Regions from separate parts of the Homo sapiens genome. Here region 2 is linked to region 1. The links come from fine-mapping of genetic effects on gene expression. A gene starts in region 1. The other region holds a variant in brackets. All regions are shown on one strand. Distances are from middle to middle. Region 1 holds the start of OSBPL10 (oxysterol binding protein like 10). Region 2 overlaps OSBPL10 (oxysterol binding protein like 10).

Region 1 (5,373 bases):
CTGTAATCCCAGCACTTTGGGAGGCCGAGGTGGGCGGATCACGAGGTCACGAGATCGAGACCATCCTGGTGAACACAGTGAAATCCCATCTCTACTAAAAATACAAAAAAATTAGCTGGGCATGGTGGCAGGTGCCTGTAGTCCCAGCTACTGGGGAAGCTGTGAGGCAGGAGAATGACGTGAACCCGGGAGGCAGGGCTTGCAGTGAGCTGAGGTCGTGCCACTACACTCCAGCCTGGGTGACAGAGCGAGACTCCAGTCTCAAAACAAAAACAAAAACAAAAACAAAAAAAACCCCTTAGGCTCTGAATTTTCAGGGAGATTGATTTGAGTAATAATACACTCCTGTGCTCCAGCTTGGCTGGCCCTACAATTGTTAAACTCTTCCTCTATTGCAAAAACCTGCATTGGCTTTTCCGGGTAACAAGCAAGATGAAACTGTTGGGCATTACAGTATGTATTTCAAATACTTTTTGCCAACTTATTATGTATTTTCCAAATTGTTTTTCAAACATAAAGACTTTTTCCTCTCCAAACATAATTCTGCAGGTACCTTTTCCCTATTTGCTATACTACGGTAGGTCAAGGAAAGCTTTCTGGAAGAAGTGACTTGTAATCCATAACTCCATGGGTGAGAAACACAAACCGGGTGAAGAGAGCAGGGAACAGTGTCACCAGCAGGAGGAACAGCATGTGCTTCATCACTCTTTCATGATATAGCCTCTACTTTCAGCACATCTGCTCCACTCACCTCTTGGACATTTTTGATCCCATACGGCTGGCTTGCTCCTGCCCCATCCTGGCCTTGACTATTCCTTTTAGCTTAGTTCCTTCCCCACTTGAACTGGTCTATCTCAAGGGTCTAATTTTTTAGTCCAAGGTGAGAATTTGTTGTGCTAGCTCATTCAGTCTTAGGTTGGCTGCATAAGGTGGAGTAATGGTGGCATAGGTTAGGTAATATGAAATAAAATGACACTTCTCCTCTTTTAGCAGGAGCTTAAGGTGGCAGTCTCCAATAAAAGGCATGTTGTTTTGGTACATAATGCTGACATTTATAGTCCAGTATGCACCTACCTTCCCACCTTCAGTCTGTATGTCAATGCAGGACTCAATGAACACTCATATATGATCAGTAAGTTAGCTTAGGCAAAGCTATGCTGTGGTAAAAAATAATGCTAAAATCTCAATGGCTTCAAACAAACATTTTGTGCATGTTACATGGCCAACACTAACTGGCTTAGGATCTGCTGTATTCCACACCTTCTCACTCCAGGACACAAGCTTAAGGAGAGTCCTTATCCGGGACATGCTGCTCTCCTGGGATAAGGAAAAGAGAAAGATGGTGGAACCATATGACTGCTCTTAAAGCTTATGTTTGGAAGGGGCATTCATTACTTCTGTTCACATTCCATTGCTCAAAGCAATTCCATGGCCAAGCCTAAGGTCCATGTGGAGGAAGGATACTCTTTCCATAGGAAGCGGCAGTAAATATTTTGAACAAATGAACATTCTTGCATAGTTTATTACAGCCGGTATCATTTGTCCCATTTTGCAGTGAGAAAACTAAGGCTAAAAGAGGTAATTTGATCAAGGTCATAGGTTAGAATTCAGCTCTGAATGGCTTCAAATTTGGTCCAGGCAAGCTCTTTTCAGATTTTTTTTTTTTTAACACTATGTAGGCACCTGGAATTGTAATTTACTCAGGGGCACAACCACTTCTCTTCAACTCCAGAAGCTTCTCCGTGCATCTCTAGAGCTAAACCACCCATGAAATCTTCCTGGAAGGATGTGAAGCTAGAAAGGGGTTGGGCTCGGGGAACTGTCCCTTTGAGAGCTGACTTTTCCATTTAGTAATTTTTTTTAACTCTTGAAGTATTTATCTGCTTGATGGGTTTGTAGATCCTTTGGACGGAGATCACCTATCATCTATCACCTTTTGTTTTGTCTGTGTGTGTGTGAGAGAGAGAGTCTGAGTTCCTCAAAGCTTTTTTCTAGGTAATTTTTGATACTTCAGATTACAATGGATATCTATATTCACAAAAAATATTAGTGGGATAGAAAGAGTATCTTTAGGTAGGAAGAGGGGCGCAGAAGTTACAGCCAACACAGAGAATCCTTCAATGTTTGTAAATATCTGTTAATTTCCCTTGCCTCTGGAGCAGTTTTCCCGGTTTCAGAGCCTCTGCTCCTAGGTGCACGTGCAGTGTGGTAGCAATGGATAGGTTTTGACTTGCCAGGTTTATGCGTGCCATTCAGGGCAGGGGATTAGGGTTAGGCCAGTGAGTGACCTAGGACACTCAATTTAAGGAAGCACTCGCACAAACCTGAGAGTTCGCGCGCCTCACCCCAGCCCAGCCGTGTGTCTGTTAAGCATTTATCATAATCCTGCTGCATGAAAATGCCCGGCGAGCTTACCTGTGAGGATCACCTGCCACTCCCCTCCTCCGCCAGACAACGCGGAGGGCCTCCCTGAGCTGTGACTTTGCTCCGCCGGTGATAATTTCCAGGTTACTGTGTAGGAGCGTCTGGCGCAGCATCGTGTGCGGAAGACCGAGAGAGGGAGTGTGCGTGTGAGCCTGTCAGGCCGGGCGGGTCCATATCCGGGTGGACCGGGTGGGTGGGGCTGCCCCTCCCTCCAGGTCCCGAGGTGGATAAGGGGTGGGGAGTGACGTGCAGAGATTCCCTTTCGCCCCTTCGGATCCAAGAGAGGGTGGCAGAAGGAATGCGTGGGTGACTTGGCGTGGATTTAGGGCGTGCCCACCCTGCAGATCGGCCTCCTAGAGTGTCCCGAGGGCCTGAGAGGCCGCAGGGACACGAAGGAAGAGAAGGAGGAACCCGAAGAGGGCTCGCCTAGCCGGCCACCCGCTCCGAACTTGCCCGGGAAACTAGTGCGGAGGGAGGGGCCGGGCCCTGGCCGCGGCGGGAGGAGGGGCGGCCGCAGCTGCATCCAGCCCCGTTGGCTTCCTTCCCAGCTCTCCTTCGCCTCCTCCTCCTCTTCCTCCTGTATGAGTCAGGCATTTCCCGGGGATTTGGAGCAGGCACGCGCGGCCCGGGCGTCCGGAGCTGTAGCAGCAGCAGCAGCCGCCGTGCCGGGGCCGCCACCGCGGCGGGCACCCGCGTCCCGGGCGCCCACGGACCATGGAGAGGGCAGTCCAGGGCACAGACGGCGGCGGGGGTAGCAACAGCAGCAGCCGCAGCAGCAGCCGTGCTACCTCGGCGGGCTCCTCGCCCTCCTGCTCTCTGGCGGGCCGGGGGGTCTCCAGCCGGTCGGCGGCGGCCGGGCTCGGCGGCGGGGGAAGCCGCAGCAGCCCGGGCTCTGTGGCCGCTAGCCCGTCCGGGGGAGGCGGCCGCAGGAGGGAGCCGGCGCTCGAGGGCGTGCTCAGCAAATACACCAACCTCCTCCAGGGCTGGCAGAACAGGTAACGCGCCAGCCGCCCGCGCCACCGCGCGCCGCTGTGTGTGTGTGTGTGTGTGTGCGTGCGTGTGTGTATGTGTGTCTGTGTATGTGTGTGCGCGCGCGATTGTGCCTTCAGCGAACCCAGTGATGCCTCCCAACGGTGCCCTTCCTGCGTCCCTGCTCCCCTCCAGGTGGGGTTCTCAGGATGGGGCGCGCCGTGGCTCCACCCCGGGACCGCACCGCAGTGGCGGGGAGGGAGGCGAGAGCCCTGGTTTTCTTCTATGCTGGCACCTGCAGAGACTGGAGTGGTGGCAGGAGGATCGTGCTGGTCCCCGTGCTCTGCTTGTCCGCGGTTTCCCGCACGCCTGAAGAATGACTGGGAAAGGGAGGCAGAAGGGGCGTGCTTTGTGCCGGGGTGAAAAAGCGTTAGCACGTCCGCTCCGATTACAGTAATTCTCTAAGTAACAGTTCATTTTAAAGTTTGGTGTTTCAGAACACCACCACCATCAACAAAAAACCTGCCACTTGTCATCCTGGGCGACTGTGCATACTCCTGCCCCAGTTTGTGCCTTGCAGCCTCCGATGTTTGTAATGGAAGTTTTGTTTAAAAACAGAAAGAGGCCGGGCGCGGTGGCTCACCTCTGTAATCCCAGTACTTTGGGAGGCCGAGGCGGGCAGATCACGAAGTCAGGAGTTCGAGACCAGCCTCGCCAACATGGTGAAAACCCGTCTCTACTAAAAACAAAAAAAATTAGCCGGGCGTGGCGGCGCGCCTGTAATTCCAGCTACTCCGGAGGCTGAGGCAGGAGAATCGCTTGAACCCCGGAGGCAGAGGTTGCAGTGAGCCGAGATCGCGCCATTGCAATCTAGCCGGGGCGACAGTGCGAGACTCCGACTCAAAAAAAATAAATAAATAAAATAAAATAAAATAAAATAATAAAAAGAAAGAAAAAATACCCTCCCCCTTTTAATATTAGTAGCAATTTACATTATTATCATTATTTCCTCTTCAGGTCCCATTTGAAGTTTCCTGCTCACTTCCCCCTTGCAGTTGAGAAGCCTAGTTATGGACACGTGGAAGGATGGGGCTGTCGAGGAAAGGGGCTCAGGAGGCACTTGGAATGGTGGTAGTGTGTGTGATCTGCCATCGTGAGGAAGACAAGAACAGATGTGGCACTACTGTTTACTTTTTGTTTTTGTTTTTTTTTTCAATTTGTTTTCCAAAAACAAGCCAGAGGGAAATACAAGTGTCAGTGCGAGGAGAACAATGCTTTTTGGAGAGGTGGTTGGTGGGATATTTTGTCCTGCCTATTTAACAGTCTCCAGATCTTAATAGACTTGGGGCTCTTAAGGATGTTTGTGAGATTTGAATTATACCCTGGAAAGTTGCTTATCTCTGCTGCATGGACTATATTACTTGGTTATCTCTTCCTGTAGATTGTTTGGAAATGTTCAGATTTGCTTCCATCTGAAACATATCAGCCAGTTATCTGCACGAAACTCAACTTGGAGGAAGAGGTCTTTTGAAGTATGGAAACTGAGTTGTTTCTATATTGATATTCTACATATAGGACTTTCTGAGTCACCTGGGCTTCCTGGGAGATGTGTTACTATGTTAGTGGAAGTTGCACTTAACTTTTGAATCCTTTTATTTCTCAAAATAGTCCTAGTGTCTGCTGTTGCCTCTCCCTTCCCCTTTCAATTCGTGAAAGCTGAAAAAGAATAGGTAGAATGCGTAGGTAGAGGGAGATATGAGATGACTAAATCTGATTTCAGTTCTTGGTAATTATGTCTCGTTAATGGCAACTCAAGGTGCCTTGTCAGTAACAGCATTTTGTTGGTGTGTTGAGCAATCACTTAATGCTTTTTCTTCAAGTAGATTATGAGGCCAGCAAAGCTTTTACCCTGGATTACAGTTATTTTATTATTTACTTGCTGGGGAACAATATTTTACCTTGCAGTCTGTATTAAAGGAT
Region 2 (5,373 bases), 21 kb after region 1:
CTCCTGCTGTCATCATTTGAAGAACTGGCAGCATTTAAGTATTAAGTAATAGTATTTAATCAGTGTTAAACTGTGAGAACTTGATCATCATATGGTTCTATAAGAAAATGTCCTTGTTCTTGGAAAATACATAAATACATAAATATGAAATATTTAAGAATAAAGGGAGATGTCTACAACTCATTCTCAGATGGTTGAGGAAACACTTTATATAAGGAGAAGGGGATGGGAAAGGGAGGGAGATGGATGGATGTGGGTGGAGGGGAGGAAAGGAAGGAAGGACGGGGAAGGGAGAGAAGGGAGGGGAGAGATGGCTAGAGAGCATGATAAAGCAGATGTACGCAAACATCAATAATTTTTGAATCTGTGTGAAGGGAGATAGAGGAGTTCTTTGTCATATTCTTGCAACTCTTTGGTAAGTTTGAGTCATTTCAAAGTACACATTTAAAAAAACAGAAAACAAGGAAACACATGGCTCCTTTGAGAAACAGGAGTCACACCACTTCCTGTAATATTATTTGAAATTGCCACAAAAGTGAAGTCTTTTGATTGAAAGCAAGTCATTGTATTGCAAGATCCAGGAGATCAGGCATTAGACCTAAGTTCTGGCACAGTGCCTGGCGCATAGTAGGTACTCAATATTTGTTTAGTGAATGCTATCAAAGCAGCAGTGATTTTGGCATTGGCTTTTCCCATTTGTGCATTTACCTTGCACCCAAGTGATTTGGATTTGCTCCCCTAGACAAGACTTTATGTGCTCCTGTGGTCTTTGTGAAAACAGCCAAATGGAAAAGTTTTGTCTCAGGGAGCTTGCGTTACAACTTAGTGTAATGGGAGCGATTGAAACCCTAACTGTACATTTCTTGCGGGTAAAAGCCCCCTGGAATCAGGCAGAGTATTTATGGCACTTCTCCTGTGCTGGTTCCCATTTAAAGATGGTGAAATCTCAAAAAAAAAAATAGTGTTTCATTACTTTTATAATATGTAGAACATATAGTTTACCATTTTAACCATTTGTAAGTGTACAGTTTGGTGGCATAAGTATATTCATACTGTTGTGAAACCAATACCACTTTTCATGTCCGGTACTTTTTTATCATCCCAAATTGAAACTATACCCATGAAATAACTTTATTGTTGTTATTTGCTTAGAAAATCATTTATTCAACAGAATTATAGTTGTTATCTGTGTTAATAGTAGGCTACAGGACCTCGAATCCAAAATTGGTGATGCCGGCCAGGCGCGGTGGCTCCCACCTGTAATCCCAGCATTTTGGGAGGCCAAGGTGGGCAGATCACCTGAGGTCAGGAGTTCAAGACCAGCCTGGCCAACGTGATGAAACCCCATCTCTACTAAAAATACAAAAAAATTAGCTGGGCGTGGTGGTGGGCATCTGTAATCCCAGCTACCCAGGAGGCTGAGGCAGGTGAATTGCTTGAGCCTAGGAGGCAGAGGTTGCAGTGAGCTGAGATCACACCACTGCACTCCAGCCTGGGCGACAGAGCGAGACTCCGTCTCAAAAAATAAAAATAAAAAAAAGCAACCCTCCCCTCTGCCAAAAAAAACTCTTAAAAAAAAAAAAACCAAAACAAAACTGGTGATGCCAAAATTAGAGAACTTATTTAAATGTAATTAATAGCAATTATCTTGAAAGGGAACCTTTAGAAATATAACAGGAACATCTGCTGGTGTACATTAATTAATTTCTGTAAAGATTATAATTATACACTAGAATATATGCCATTTAAAATGAAATTTAATACTCAGGAGGCTGAGATGGGAGGATGGCTTGAGCCCAGGAGTTCAAGGCTGCAGTGAGCTATGATTGCACCACTGCACTCCAGCCTAGGAAATAGAGTGAGACCCTGTCTCTAAAAAATAAATAAATAAAATACAAATGTCAAAAGACACCAATAATTAGCCCAGCCCCCTCCCAGCATTATTAGCATTATTAACATTATTAACACACACACTCTCTAAATAGAGCAGTTTTAGGCTCCCAGCAAAATTGGAAATATAGAGTTCCCATGTCTCCCCTACTCCAACACATGCACAGCCTTTTTAATGATACTTTACATTTTAAAAATAGTATCTGTCTACTAAAATAAAATCAGAGACGCTAGCTTTCCGAGCCCTGGGAGCTCACTTTTCTCCTGAAGCCTTCCCTGGCTTCCTGGGCACTGCAGATCCCTCAAATTTAGGTTCTACCACCACATTCTTGTTTGGTGACTCGTGATCTAGCCTCACCCACAAGGACAGTACAGGGCTCGTGTTTGCTTAGGTGGTGCTCCATATTTGATTGTTGAGCCAAAGAGTGGGTTTGGAGAGCTTCAGAACTTGATTTGTTATAGAATAGCTTCATTCTTTATGGAGTGGGTTGCACATGAAGAATATTTGATGTAGAATGGCTCTGGCAAGTTAAAAAAAAAAAAAAAAAAAAAAAGGCTGTAGCTTCTTGGTTAAACATTGACAGAAGGAGGTCCCTTGGGGAATTTGTGAGCTGCTAGGTGGTT[T/G]ACACCATTTTTTGGGCAGCTTTGAGGTTCAAGCAGTTTGGTTTTAACCCTTTGTAGGTCAGGTTTTTAGACCTTGTAATCTATTTTCCCTTTTAAAGGAGGAATAAGGATTAAAGAGGATAAAGAGGATGGTTTTTCTGTAAGAGAGAGTGCTGGTAATTCTCTCCTGGTGGTGAGCATTTGTAGGGTGGGGTAGGGGCACAGATGGCACATGGCTGATGGCCTTGAGGGAGAAGTGGGTTGCACAGTCTCTTGCAACAGTTTCCAGAGTGGGGAAGGTTCAGAGATGCTCTTCTGGTTTCTGAGCTTGTGAAGAGAGAGACGTAGAGGAGAAAGGGTTAACTTCCATTTTTACTTGGAAATGGATAGTTTAAGCTGGGGAGGGCCTGTGTTATGTAAACTAGCTTGCAACCTTCTGGTGTCCATTTTAGCCTTGCTTTCTCATTTAGGTCAATTGGATCTGAATAAGGAATTTGGCCAGACAACAAAATATTTAAACTGGTTCCCCTATTGCATCTCATTTCCACAGTCTGTTTATAATCCTAATTGATGCAAATGCCCTTGTTATTGTGAATGTGAATACCCTGAATGCAGGGTTCTGGTTTGTTTCATTTCACATTGTATTACTGAACGTGGTGAGGGAAGCTGAGGGTCTGAGTGACAAGCGGAGTGTGGCTGGATCCAGCCTTATTTTGAAGGATTCCTTTGGCACCCAGGGGCCCAGGGATGAGGTGCTGTTTTGGGAGGCTGGTAAAAGTTCAGAAGCGATCTCTGAGACTCCCTATCTGCCAGATTCCCAGACTGTGAGCTGCTTCAAGATCAGGGAAGTTTTTCGGTACGTAATTTCTTAAGCACTCAGCAAAGTGCTAAGATAGTCTTCCCTGCCTCAGGGAGTTTGGAAGGACATTTTTCCATGGAGTACATCAGACCTAAGAGGGAGAGTTTTGTTTTTCTTCACTGATAGGCAACTTTCATTTTCTGCATTTGAGAGAACCTGATTTTAAGTAGCACAGTGGCCACGTCACAATCCAGGAATAATTTTGGCATTTTTCCTGTATCCTTTTTCTGCAAGTGTTTTTCACAATAAACCAAAATAACCTAGTCAAGGGGAGAGGGAGGCTAACATTTTCTTTCATGGAGCATTATTCTGAGGCTTGAAGGTGCTCAGGTGAACTTGCCCAAGTTCTGTTTTACAGGTGAGGAAACTGCCTCAAATAGATGACATTTAATTCAAAGTTACACACGGAGTTTGTCGCTGAGTTAGAACAAGAAACAGAATATGCTTCTCAGTCAGTTTTGGAAAAACTCCAGAAAGGTGATGCTAAAAATGGTCTTTTTGCCTTGTGTTTTGTTATATAGCAAAGAATACCCGCTGGCTTCTCATTATCTAGCTGATGCCCTGAGACTCATCTGATGTTCTGGCTTATGTATTAGCTGCTTTGAGTGATGGCGAAAACTTCAAAATGTGCAGAGAGCTCTTCCTTGAACCCAGTGATCCTGGGGTATTAACAGATTGTGTTTGGGATATCTTATCTCTGAGTCTCATGCTAATTTCCTCTGATATATAGCAAAAAGACTGGGTTTAACAGTAGTTTTCAGTAGACAAAGTTGCTTTTATTTTATTTTCCAGGTTATGAATACAGAACTGGCCTTTAGGACTGCTTCTGATCTATCAGTAGATAGTACACTGTTTATAGTGCTGCAAAAAGAGAAGGTGGACTTGTAAATTCAGGAAGGGACCTGGCTAAATTTGATTAGACTGCATTAAAAATTTGAGACTTTTCTCTGTGAGCCGATATCTCGTAGCATTTCTTTAGGACAGAGCACTCTTTAATTGAGAGTTGTTCTTGCCTGGACCTTGGCTTGTTGGCAAATGCAGCATGTGTGATTCCATTGCGTGCGTCTCCACTCTTGAACTGCTACTTTGGATCACAATTACTGGAAGTGTCTTCTAGGGCCCTGACCCTTTAGAGATGACATTTGACCTTTGGGAGTCTCTTCCATGGTGCATTAATGAGTTTCCCATGTGCTGGAGTGCTTACTCTTTGGTTTAGTACAGGGGTTAGAAAGGTTTTTTTGTAAAGAGTCAGATAGTAAATAATTCAACTCTGCCATGGCAGCATAAAAGCAGCCCTAGGCAATATGTAAACAAATAGACATGGCTCTGTTCCAATAAAACCTTATTTGCTAAAATAAGTGGTGGGCTGGATTTGGCTCAAAGGCCTGTTCTCTAGTTTAGAGGCTTTTGGAACACAAAGCCGAAACACCCTTGGCTCTTGTGTGAGAGAGAGAAGAATCCAGTATTCAGAACATAAACATCTCAGTTGAAATGTAGCATCCATGGTGAGAAAGATGCTTTGTGTTATTGAAAAGTTGACATAACAAATATAAAGACTTTTTTTGGGAAAAAAATGGGCCCTTGTCCTCCCATCCTAATACAACTGTTACTGATTTTTGTGCATTTCTTTTGAGTCTTGTCCTCCTGCATATGTACCTCTGTGAAGTCCTGATGTGCGCAATACCAGTTGATATTATTAAAAAGCATAACACACCATATATCTGACAGTTGTTACTACATTGGATCTAGTGAGGCCTAAAACATACAAACTAGATTTGTCAGAGAAGATATTTTTAAGGACTAATTTGTGAGGTGTACTGTCATTTTGTGCATTTTTAACTTTTTTCAATTGCAAGAGTAATACTTCACTCATTATTTACTTCAGCCCTAAATATTAGTAGAAATCAGGCCAGAGCTAAAGTAAATCAGGTAATTGGCTATTCAGGGGCTGAAAGATGTTTAGTGGCAAAGTCACGCTTTAGCTCTAAGTTAACATTGTGGTCACAAGGGTATTCTGGTGG

What was found.
Region 2: its variant is fine-mapped to the expression of OSBPL10 in whole blood (TOPMed, PIP above 0.99).

What each region holds. Positions count from the first base shown.
Region 1 is chr3:31,978,945-31,984,317 of GRCh38, reverse strand. It overlaps OSBPL10 (oxysterol binding protein like 10), which reads left to right and starts at 3,056. Exons shown (of 12, transcript NM_017784.5): 1 at 3,056-3,419. The coding sequence starts at 3,139. ZNF860 (zinc finger protein 860) reads right to left here and starts at 2,568. Exons shown (of 2, transcript NM_001137674.3): 1 at 2,416-2,568. RefSeq lists a silencer at 3,297-3,366 and an enhancer at 4,921-4,970.
Region 2 is chr3:31,958,119-31,963,491 of GRCh38, reverse strand. The region is part of intron 1 of OSBPL10 (oxysterol binding protein like 10); the gene reads left to right. Among named protein-coding and RNA genes, the nearest start is that of OSBPL10, 20 kb to the left of the region's middle. The variant T/G (reference allele first, on the strand shown) is at 2,515.